2 separate regions of the Homo sapiens genome follow, and region 2 is linked to region 1. The links come from fine-mapping of genetic effects on gene expression. A gene starts in region 1. The other region holds a variant in brackets. All regions are shown on one strand. Distances are between the middles of the regions.

The links. PIP is the estimated chance that this variant, and not a neighbour inherited with it, causes the effect. A credible set is the group of variants that fine-mapping cannot tell apart.
Region 2: its variant is the best candidate, but not a certain one, in a credible set for the expression of LINC03052 in whole blood (TOPMed, PIP 0.65).

What each region holds. Positions count from the first base shown.
Region 1 is chr2:95,524,060-95,529,441 of GRCh38, reverse strand. It overlaps LINC03052 (long intergenic non-protein coding RNA 3052), which reads left to right and starts at 2,688. Exons shown (of 1, transcript NR_182300.1): 1 at 2,688-4,569. It also overlaps the pseudogene ANKRD33BP1. RefSeq lists an enhancer at 2,149-2,278 and a silencer at 2,419-2,708.
Region 2 is chr2:95,845,926-95,851,307 of GRCh38, reverse strand. ANKRD36C (ankyrin repeat domain 36C) reads left to right here. Exons shown (of 88, transcript NM_001393982.1): 87 at 113-142; 88 at 742-1,760. The coding sequence ends at 136. Among named protein-coding and RNA genes, the nearest start is that of LINC00342, 22 kb to the right of the region's middle. The variant T/A (reference allele first, on the strand shown) is at 2,446.

The DNA.
Region 1 (5,382 bases):
TGGACAAGCCCTGTGCTGGCCCCAGGGTACTCTGTGCACCTGGGTAAGGCTGGAACACACTGGGGACAGGGACCCAACATACTCACTCCGCAAGAGCGTGGGACCTGGGGAAATCGCCAGTTGTTTGCTGTCCTGCCATTGCCGTTCTACACATCCCTGGAGACTATGAGCATGGGTTGTGGTGCCGTAGTGGCTGGGCAGTATCAGAAATGTCCATTTTTCACCTGGAAGCAGCAGACACCCAAGGCTCAGGGTAGAAGTGGGGGCTCCATACCATTCCCAGTGCCAACTTCCCATGGCAGAAACAGGAAGGAATGTCTGGCAACCCACCAAGGGTCAGACGCCACATCAGCCTGAGCAGAAGCTGCCTGACACTGGCTGTTCCAATGACAATTAGACGTTCTTGGGAAGGTGGCGCCCTTTGTGGGAGCTCAGGATGGGTGTCCTGGAAGTGCCACTTAAATGGCACTGAGGCCTCTCAAAATCCCTGTGTTAGAGCTGCAGCTCTCCATGTGGGCTGCAGTGCAGTCACCTATGGAGCTTTAGGACAGGCCCAAGGCTCAGTTCCCTGGGCCAGTGCCTCAATAACTTTCGCAGTTCGGCTTGGAGAAGCGAGCCTGGGAGACCACGTGGCACTGCCTGGCTGGGTCCTGGGCTGACAGAGGTGAGCGTGGGGCTTGTGGTGACTTGGTAATGCTGTGAATTATGTACGTGTGGCAGGAAGGTGCCACAGTGCTAAGGCCCCGCATCTTGGAAATTCCATAGGGTCCACATGAGGATGAACTAAACACCAAATGCAGTCCTCAAAGGAATAATAAAACAAATACCCACATAAGGGAATCTCTGGAACTGAGTCTGGAAGAGGGGGCTGCCTGGTCCACTCCAGGAGAATTTGCCTAAAACAAGTTTGCTTCTCATTGCATTCTCTTTGCTTCTTCTAAACATCACCTCCTCTAGAGGTTACATTACACCCCATTCCTGTAATTTACATCATTCTGGGCTCCTTACTCTTGTTGCATCCTTTTTTACATTTTAAGGATGCCTAGATTCGATTTACTTAAGAGCATATACGGCTTAATTTTATATTTCTGGTAATCATTTATTACATTTCCCCCATTTTATCAAATGACACATTTTTCTCATGTCTATTTTAATATGTTAAAGATTTTTGTATACAGTTTATCTAAAACTCCTTGCTTAAAATGAGTTTAATTCTAGCAATACAGACATGCCTATCTCTGCATTGTTTTATAATTTGACGATAAATGTTTTTCCTCAATATATGACTGTATTGGATAATACTTTTTAAAAAGATACAATAAAATCTGATCTCTCTGTCTCACTTGATCATGTGGCTGAACCAGTCAATCCCTCCATCAAATAGAAATATCCGGCATCACTTAATCTAATTAATAAAAACATCCACCCATGATGAGAAGACCAAAGCAAACAGCCCAAAAAGGAGAGAATCCCATGATTTCTGTGTAAAGTCCTACAGATATCATAAATATTTATTGCTGGAAACAGTGTTTTAAATAAAAGGTCTTCAGGTAAGTGTATAAAAACTTCCTTGGATACAAGGGACCCTATCACTTGTAAAACTTGGCAAATTGGACAACAATTAAAAATACAAAATTACACAGAAAATATCCTTTAATAAATTGATTTTTTTTTAATTGAGACGGAGTTTGGCTCTTGTTGCCTAGGCTGAAGTGCAATGGCGCCATCTTGGCTCCCTGCCACCTCTGCCTCCAGGGTTCAAGCGATTCTCCTGCCTCAGCCTCCCGAGTAGTTGGGATTACAGGCATGTGCCACCACGCCCGGCTAATTTTGTATTTTTAGTAGAGATGGGGTTTCTCCATGTTGGTCAGGCTAGTCTCAAACTCCTAACCTCAGGTGATCCGCCCGCCTCGGCCTCCCAAAGTGCTGGGATTACAGGCGTGAGCCACCGCGCCTGGCCTAATAAATTAATCTTTAAAAAAATCTTAATTGAGGTTCTCTAAAGGGAGCCTTTTAGGGAACATGCCCCCTAGGTGTACTGATTGCTAGGGTGGCTGGTGTGAAGCGAATCGATGTGGCTCCCCCAGCCCCTTTCTGGGAGCATCCTAGAGAGACAGCGTGGAAACGCGCGCTGCCCGGTGGTCCCGAGAGCTGCCATGGTGCCCAGCCCCGCGGCCTCACCCAGCCCTCAAACCCCGTGCCAAGCACCCGCGGACTCTCACGTCCTCTTCTTCCAGGGCGGCGGGCGCTTCTCCTGCACCTTGGCCTGGCGCCTCTTCTCGGCCTCCTCCGCCTCCCGTTTCTCCTCCTTGGCCACCTTGTAAGGCCACTTGGGTATCCGCAGGTGGCCGCTGCCTTTATGCTGCCCTTCCGCGCCGGCCTTTTGGGTTGGAAGGTGGGCGCGGGCACCTTGCTGAGGCGGACCTGGGCACCACCACGCTGGGCCCCAAGCTGCTCTGCTGCAGGCACTGCAGGGGCAGGAGGCTGGCCGTCCGCGGGGCGGGGGCGGCGGAGCCCCAGGACCCCGGCAGCCGGGCAGGTGGGAGGCCGGCTCTTGGGGAGGCCTTTGTGGAGCCAGCGGCCGCTAGGCCGAGCGGCTTATGCTACTCTGCGCCCTCCTCTTCGCCCGCCTCCTGCGCCTGCCTCCCCCCACCCCTCGCCGCGCCGCCGGAATTTCCTGCGCCGCCAGGATTTCCTGCACCGCCAGCCGCCTCTTCCCCCAGCACAAGGTGCTCTCGGGGCACATAGTCTGGCACGCGAGGGCCCCGGCGGGGCTGTTAGAGGCTCGTGGTCATCCTGACCATGTGGTCCAGGGCGCCCCGGTCCTCTGGGCCCCGCATGGAGCGCGGCGTCAGCGCGGACAGCTCGCAGTCCCTGAGCCTCTGCAGGCAGTTCTTGGAGCCCTCGGGCTTTTGCGGCCTCTCGGGGAGCGGCGGCAGCTCAAGCTGGTACTTTTTCCCCAACAGCTCCCGGCAGGGGCGCTCCAGGAGCCTCTGCATGAGGCGGACGTATAAGTGGCCACTCCTCTGGCGACATCCCACGGCGGGGGCCCTCGCGTGGACACCCGCCCCTGCTAGCTCAGGGCTCCGATGCGATCCGTTCGACCCTGCATGGCGGCTTTCAACCCGAACGCGTCCCTCCTTCAAGATCAAGACCCTGAACGTAGTTCAACAAGTAGTTGGTGATGATAGCGTGCCCTGACTGGGCCAGGATAGCCTCTTTAGTAAAACAGCCACGAAAGTCATGAAACAGATGCTCAGCTCCTTTCTTCATTTTCACTTTAATTCGGTGATGCCTCTGTGTCTGTCTGACGACATCTCTCCTGGGGTCTGTGATTCTGCTGATGGTCTTCAGTGCCTACTGAGAAGGGTTCCTGGACATCATCAGGTATGAAAACCTCAAAGCTCTCGGTCCTCAACGTGAGAACCCTGGGCCAGCGGCATCAGCCTCACCAGGAAACCTGTTCTTCTGCTCATTCTTGGGCCCCACCCCAGGCCTATTCAAAGAAAGACTCCAGGGGCAGGGCCTGGCAGCCTGTGTTTCCACCAGATCTGTGTTAAAGCTCAAATGAACCAGCCCACGTGATGCTGACCAGGAAGCACAAGGCTGAGAGCCAGTGTCCAAGGCAACGGTGCCCATGGGGCCAGAGGCAGCTCCTGCCTGTGCAGCTGTATTTAGGGCTGCGTTCCCCTCCCTGTCCTGCCAGTTGACGTCAGTGTGGGGTTACTCAGCTAAGGCCACCACGGTATATCCACAAAGCCGTGGTAGCAGGCGACATTAAGGCTGGTCCAGCCATTGTGGTCAGTCTCCTGCGCCTTCTCAACGCTCACCCCTCGCCGCACCAGCGTCCGCAGCAGCCCCATGCCTCCTGGACGCCCTCCTCCGGGACGCTCTCCAAGCCCTCGACGCCGTGCTCCTCCTCGTCCTGGAAAGGGTACAGAGTCGTCCCAGGCTATGCTGCAGGTGTGGGGCCCTGGAACTCTTTGTAGTCAGCGCGGTCCTCCTCGACCTGTGCGCCTAGGAGTGGGGACGGCGGTGGCGGGGTCATGCAGCGCTCCCAGCCACCCTGCGGCCGGGTCCCAGCCAGCAGCACCATGCCAGCGGCCGGAGGCGTGGGCTGGGGGCCGGGGCACCGTCCCGGAAAACCGGGCGCGCCCCAAGGTCCCTGCTTCTCGCTTCCGCGTCCCCAGAGAAGCCGTAGCTCCCGCCCCCAGCCCGGCAGAAACCTCCTTTCTTTACATTATTAAGTTTGTTTTCATTTTAATTTTCTTAGGACATTGATAAAATCACTTTCGGATTTTTGAGATTAAAAATTAAATAATTTTCATCTTTACCCTTTTTAAATTTTTCACACTTTATTTTAATGCTTTTATTCTTTTGTAAATTTTAATTATTGTAATTTATATCTTCAATTATTATGGAAGAATTTTAGAAAAGTCTTTTCACATAATAAAGACTAATTAATGAACTATTATTTATTCTCTCCTCTATCTCAAATACGGACTTTAAACTTTTAGAACACTTTTTGTTTTGAGACTCTTGTTACTTATGTGACATTTTAACTATTCACTCTTCTAGTGAATTTTTAATGTCATTCAAAGGGTACATCTTTCTACACTGAGAATTAAACAAAGTTCTCAAAAATATTCTCAGATAATTTAGAATTTCACCTTCCACTGGCATGTTAAGTATGTTCTCCTTCCCTTCTAATGCATATTTTCCTCACACGTCCTCATGTTATACTCCTTATTCACCCTCCATGCAAGAGGTGATTTTATTTATTTATTTATTTATTGAGACAGAGTCTCAGTCTGTCACCGAGGCTAGAGTGCAGTGGCATGATCTCGGTTCACTGCTATCTTTGCCTCCTTGGTTCAAGTGATTATCCTGCCTCAGCCTCCATAGTAGCTGGGATTGCAGGTGTGCACCACCATGCCCCGCTAATTTTTGTATTTTAGGTAAAGACAAAGTTTTACCATGTTGAACAGGCCAGTCTTGAACTCTTGACCTAAAGTGATCCACCTGCCTTGGCCTCCAAAAATGCTGAGATTACAAAAACAGCAACTAAACGCTGGAATGATGACTGGGAACTTGTCTAGAGTCTCCAGTGATTATCCTCCTTATAACAAGGCAGAAAGCCTTCCTCAGAATTATCTGGACTGACATCACTCATTGTCCAGACCTGTTAACAGCAACAAGTGCTGTGAGTCTCAAATGTGCTCCTTCAATAATGCAGTAGAAGGCCTGAGTTTCCACATAATAGTATCCTTGAATGCCTGGAGACTTAAGGCACAAGAATGTATTGATCCTATGAACTTTATGTTTTGTAAAATTTCAGATTATGTGAGGTGTTTGGACAAATTAAGTTTCAGGGTGATATCC
Region 2 (5,382 bases), 320 kb before region 1:
AGATTAGGGATGATCAATCTACAGTACAGATGCTCCTTGACTTACAGTGGGTTTACATGATAATGTCTCTTGTTTGACTGAAACATTATAAGTAATATTTGATTTATTTCAGATGCTGCAGGTGTTTGAGAGCTAGATGAAGGTATGTTGCCAAAATTTATGAATTAAATTCCAATCATTGATTTCTGAAATAAACTCTAAGTAGTGAACGGTATTCCCTCTCAATTGCTTGGTTAATAAATGCTACATTAAATATTTTTTCTTACACACATCTAGTGAAAGATGTGAAAACATAAACATTCATAGTGAAGGGTAATACTTATGCTTTGTTAATTCATCATGTTCCATAGCTTTAAAAAATCGCAAGAAGTCTGTGTATCCCTTTTTTTCTGGCCCTACACTTTTCTTCTGCCACCCCTATAGAACTATCAGCCTGCAAACTGAAACTGTTCTCACAAAACAAAGGCATCGTCAACTTCTCAAGGTTAAGGTAGTGATTTAAGGCTAACAGACCCCACACTCGTGATAATAATTAGTTAAGCAATTACAGGTCACAAGCAGTCACTTGACCAGTGACATTTTAAATCTCTAGTCATTGACTTTGTCATTGGTTTACTTTTGCCCGTGGGAAAAGTTGAAAATTCCTTAGCATGGAATCAAAACTCTCACATCAGTGTGGTTCTTGTCAAGTTATTCAGCCTTATCTTTCGCCACTTACCATACTCTGCACCTTTGTTCTAGCATCCAGCCAAACTAGACTACATGGAGCTCCACAGTGATCGTCTTCACCTCCAGCTGTTTGCATTTACTTCTTCCCTCTATCCTACATGTGTTTTCCTTCCCCTTCAGATATCAACCTATGAATTGCCTCTACCAAAAAGCCTACAATATTGACACAAACCTGGGCTAGTATCCCTTCTATGTCTTCCAATAAGTGCTGTCTTATGCCTGTCATTGTATGTATGACTCTGTACGGGAATTGCCTGTTTGTTTTTTCAGATTATAGCATACAGTTGTTGAGGGGTGGACTGTATCATCTTTATCTTGTAATTCCAGTGCTTGTCCTAGTACCTTAGCACATGGTTGCTGAATACATGAATGAAGAGTGAGAAACCAGAAGCTCTGATACTTAACTGCCATGATAATGAATTCAGTGTGCAACTATGGGCAAATTATATTTAATAGTAATTGCATATTGTACATATTTTTCATTCTTATTAACACTGATAAACTTTTCAACATATACTGACTTTCTCTTAGTTAACTGTGAAATCATTTAGATAAAGAATATAATTCTTTTTCATTGTAACTTCTGAATTTAAATCTGAATCCTCTATAGCAGGGGTCCCCAACCCCCAGGTCACAGACAGGTCCATGACCTGTTAGGAACCAGGCTGCACAGCAGGAGGTGAGTGGCAGGCAAGCGAGTGAAGCTTCATCTGTATTTCCAGCCACTGCCCGTTGCTCACATTATCACCTGAGCTCTGCCTCCTGTCAGATCAGCAAAGCCATTAGATTCTCACAGGAGTGAAAATCCTATTGTGAACTGCACGTTCAAGGGATCTAGGTCACATGCTCCTTATGAGACTCTAATGCCTGATGATATGTCATTGTCTCCTTTCTCTTCACGATGGGACCATCTAGTTACAGAAAAACAAGCTCAGGACTCCCATTGATTCTCCATTATGATGAGTTGTGTAATTATTTCATTATGTATTACAATGTAGTAATAATAGGAATAAAGTGCACAATAGATGTAATACGCTTGAATCACCATCCTGAAACCATCCCCCAAACCCCCATCTGTGGAAAAATTATCTTTCACAAAACTGCTGCCTGGTGCCAAAAAGGCTGGGGACTGCTGCTCTATAGCTTCTGCACTAGAATCTACTAATGAGTAAAATCTAAATCAATACCTAGTTTTAAAAGCATAACAAGAATATGTGCTGTCTGGCTGCAGTGGCTCATGCCTGTATTCTCAGCACTTTGGGAGGCCAGTGCAGGTGGACCACTTGAGGTCAGGAGTTCAAGACCAGCCTGGCCAATATGGTGAAATCCTGTCTCTACTAAAAACACAAAAATTAGCTGGGTGTGGTGGTGCATGCCTGTAGTCTCAGCTACTCGGGAAGCTGAGGTGGGAGAATCACTTGAACCCGGGAGGCAGAGGTTTCAGTGAGCCAAGATCATGCCACTGCACTCCAGCCTGAGCAACAGAGTGACTCCATCTCAAATGCAAAACAAAACAGAAAGAATACGTGCTGACAAAAAAAATCTAAAAGACAATAAAATTGTATTACTAGGCTGTTAACATGATATTTTGTTTCCCATTAAATGTGTGACATGCAAAAGTATTTATTAAATGAAAATATTTTTGTATCTTTTATGTCTGATGAAAATTTATATCATGTTTTAAATGATGTTTCTTGGCCTCTTTAACTTTTTTTT[T/A]TTATTATTATTATTTTTGAGACGGAGTCTGGCTCTGTCACCCAGGCTGGAGTGCAGTGGCGAGATCTTGGCTCACTGCAAGCTCCGCCTTCTGGGTTCATGCGGTTCTCCTGCCTCAGCCTCCCGAGTAGCTGTGACTACAGGTTCCCAGCTAGTTTTTTTTTGTATTTTTAGTAGAGATGGGGTTTCTCCCTGTTAGCCAGGATGGTCTCCATCTCCTGACCTTGTGATCTGCCCGCCTCGGCCACCCAAAGTGCTGGGATTACAGGTGTGAGCCACTGCGCCAAGCCTGAAAATCTTACTACCTAAATAACTTCCCACTCCACTCACACCCACAATCTTTCTATAATCCACATTCTCTCCTGAGACAAGAGCTTGGGAAGTTCCGTCTTTCTGAGAGAACTTTATATTGTTCAGGAATTCTTTAATAAGCTTTTACACCGTTGGGGAAACCAGGGAAAAGCAGGTTTGTCACTGCTTTGCTGAGGAGCAGACTCACATGCTTTGGAAGAATTTAGTAAACCTTCAATAGATGGCCTAAGATACTAACAGGGGCCATCTCATTAAGCTACACAGTTATTTATAAATGAAAGTATAATCTAGAACTTACATGTCAAAGTCTTCCACTACAAAGATGGCAATATTTGACTAAAACTGCAATGTTTGTCCCAGTTAACAAAACTCTAATCAAGCCCCTGCCCTTCTCATTCTGTTTTTCCTTTTAAACTTTTTTTATATTTTAATTTTTCATTTGACAAATGCATATTTCCTCTTTATACCATGCTTCCAAGTGTCACTCTGATACATACCTTCAATGACCAGACACAGGATTGTGGAGTTTGTTGTGGACACTCATCCCATGAATAGGGAGACTCCGATAACCTGAACAGAAAGCTCTGAAAAGAAAGGAAACTTTCTTTTCCGTCCATACAGAGCTTCCCCCCATTATTTCAGTGTACACAAACCAACATCAGTTCTTTAACACAAAAATAAAAATACTCAAGATCAAGCAATTGTGAGGGAAATCATCTTTCCAGAAGTCAATTCTTCTAGCGGTTACCTTCAGCATATACTACATGAATGAAAAGAAGTTGGTCAAACGAGTAAAACTTTCCCACCTCATTCCATTTCTGTCTACCCATTGACAACACCTTCGGTCTTCTCACAAATATTGAGTAGAAACACTGCCAACTCTTCACCTTTATCTGGCTCATTCCCAGAGCCAGGAGAAGATGTGATTTATTTGGTGGATGGGAAATCTTATCCATTGGTCCCATCAAATCCATTGGTCCACGTTTGCCTATTAGTAAGGCAAACTTACTCAGTGATCAATGAGTACATCTAGTCTCTCTTTCTCCTCTGGATTCTGAACAGGAGAAGTGGAAGGCAGGTGAAGACCCTCCCTGCACTGGGTGGGTAACTGACTGTTCTTCAGATGAACTTTTTTTTGTTCAGGTTCTAAAGTCAAGGCTAGGGGGCAATATTAGAAGTCTTTTTTGGTCAACATTAAGCCATAGTTTCTAAATCAGCTTTAGGAGGAATAATGTATTTGGATATTGATCTGACCTCTTGTTTTTATTTCTAAGTTTGTTTGGCACTGAAAAAGGAGAGGTTTGTTATCAATCCACACCCCTAATGCCCTGACATCCATGAATCCGTTTTAGTGGAATCCAGATCTCTAAGAAAGAGATATAAAATATTTGTTCCTATCCAACTGTGATTAATATATTTCCAACTATGTTGCTGTCTGTAAGTAGAGTCTGCATACGTGTTTCTGGTTCATATATGCCTAGGGTTCCAGAGCATTACATTTCCATCAAAATGTAGATCCCAAGAATGCCAGAGAGGGTCAGGCCGAGGATAGAACAGACAGTGATTTTCAGATACTGCAGTAGGAAGGTGGATCCACCTCTTGGCTTACTTGTAACCATGAAGTGTGGGAAAGTAATGACCAGATTGAGTAAATGACCAGAAATTCAAAACTAAGCCACAAGAAATTTGTCTATTTCTGCTTTTGTTGACTGCTATCAGGGTTACATCAAAAACAGTATTGCTGAGACCAGTGTTGTGGAGCTTTAACTCTATGTTTTCTTCTAGTAATTTTACAGTTCAGGCCTTCTATTTAAATCTTCATTTGGAGTTGATATTAGTATATGGTGTAAGTTAAGGGACTAACTTTATTTTTCCTGTGGATATTCAGTTTTCTCAACACCATTTGTAGAACAGACTATCCTTTAACCATTGTATGTCCTTGGCACCTTTGTCAAAGATAAGTTGACTGTGTGTGGGTTTATTTCTGGGTTTTCCATTTTGTTTAGCCAGTTTGTCCATTTATATGCCACTACCATGCTATTTGGATTACAATTGTTTTACAATATGTAATAAAATTAGGTAGCAGGCTGTCTCTAGCTTTGTTCTTTTTGCTCAAGATTATTTTGTCTATTTTAGGTCTGTTCAATACAAATGTCAAGATTTTTTTCCATTTCTGTAAAAGAATGGCATTGGAATTTTGATAGTGATTGCATCAAATATGTTGCTTTTGGTATTTTGTTCATTATCACAATATTAATTCATCCCATCCACAAGCATGAATTTTTTTTTTTCATTTACTTGTGTTTTTAAATTTTTGTTCATTGGTGTTTTATAGTTTTTCATATACAGGACTTTTAATTTTTTGCTTAAATTTACACCTAAGTATTTAATTTCTGTTGCTATCGTACTTGGGATTTTTTAAAAATTTCTTCAGGTAGTTTGTTATTTGTATACAGAAACACTTCTGATCTTTGTTAGATTATTTTGTATCCTGAAACCTTATTGAATTCATGCATCAGTTCTAACAGTTTTTGGTGGAATATTTAGGGTTTTCTGTATACAGGATCATGTTGTCTGCAATTAGAGATAATTTCACATTTCTTTTCTGAGTAGGATGCTTTTCTT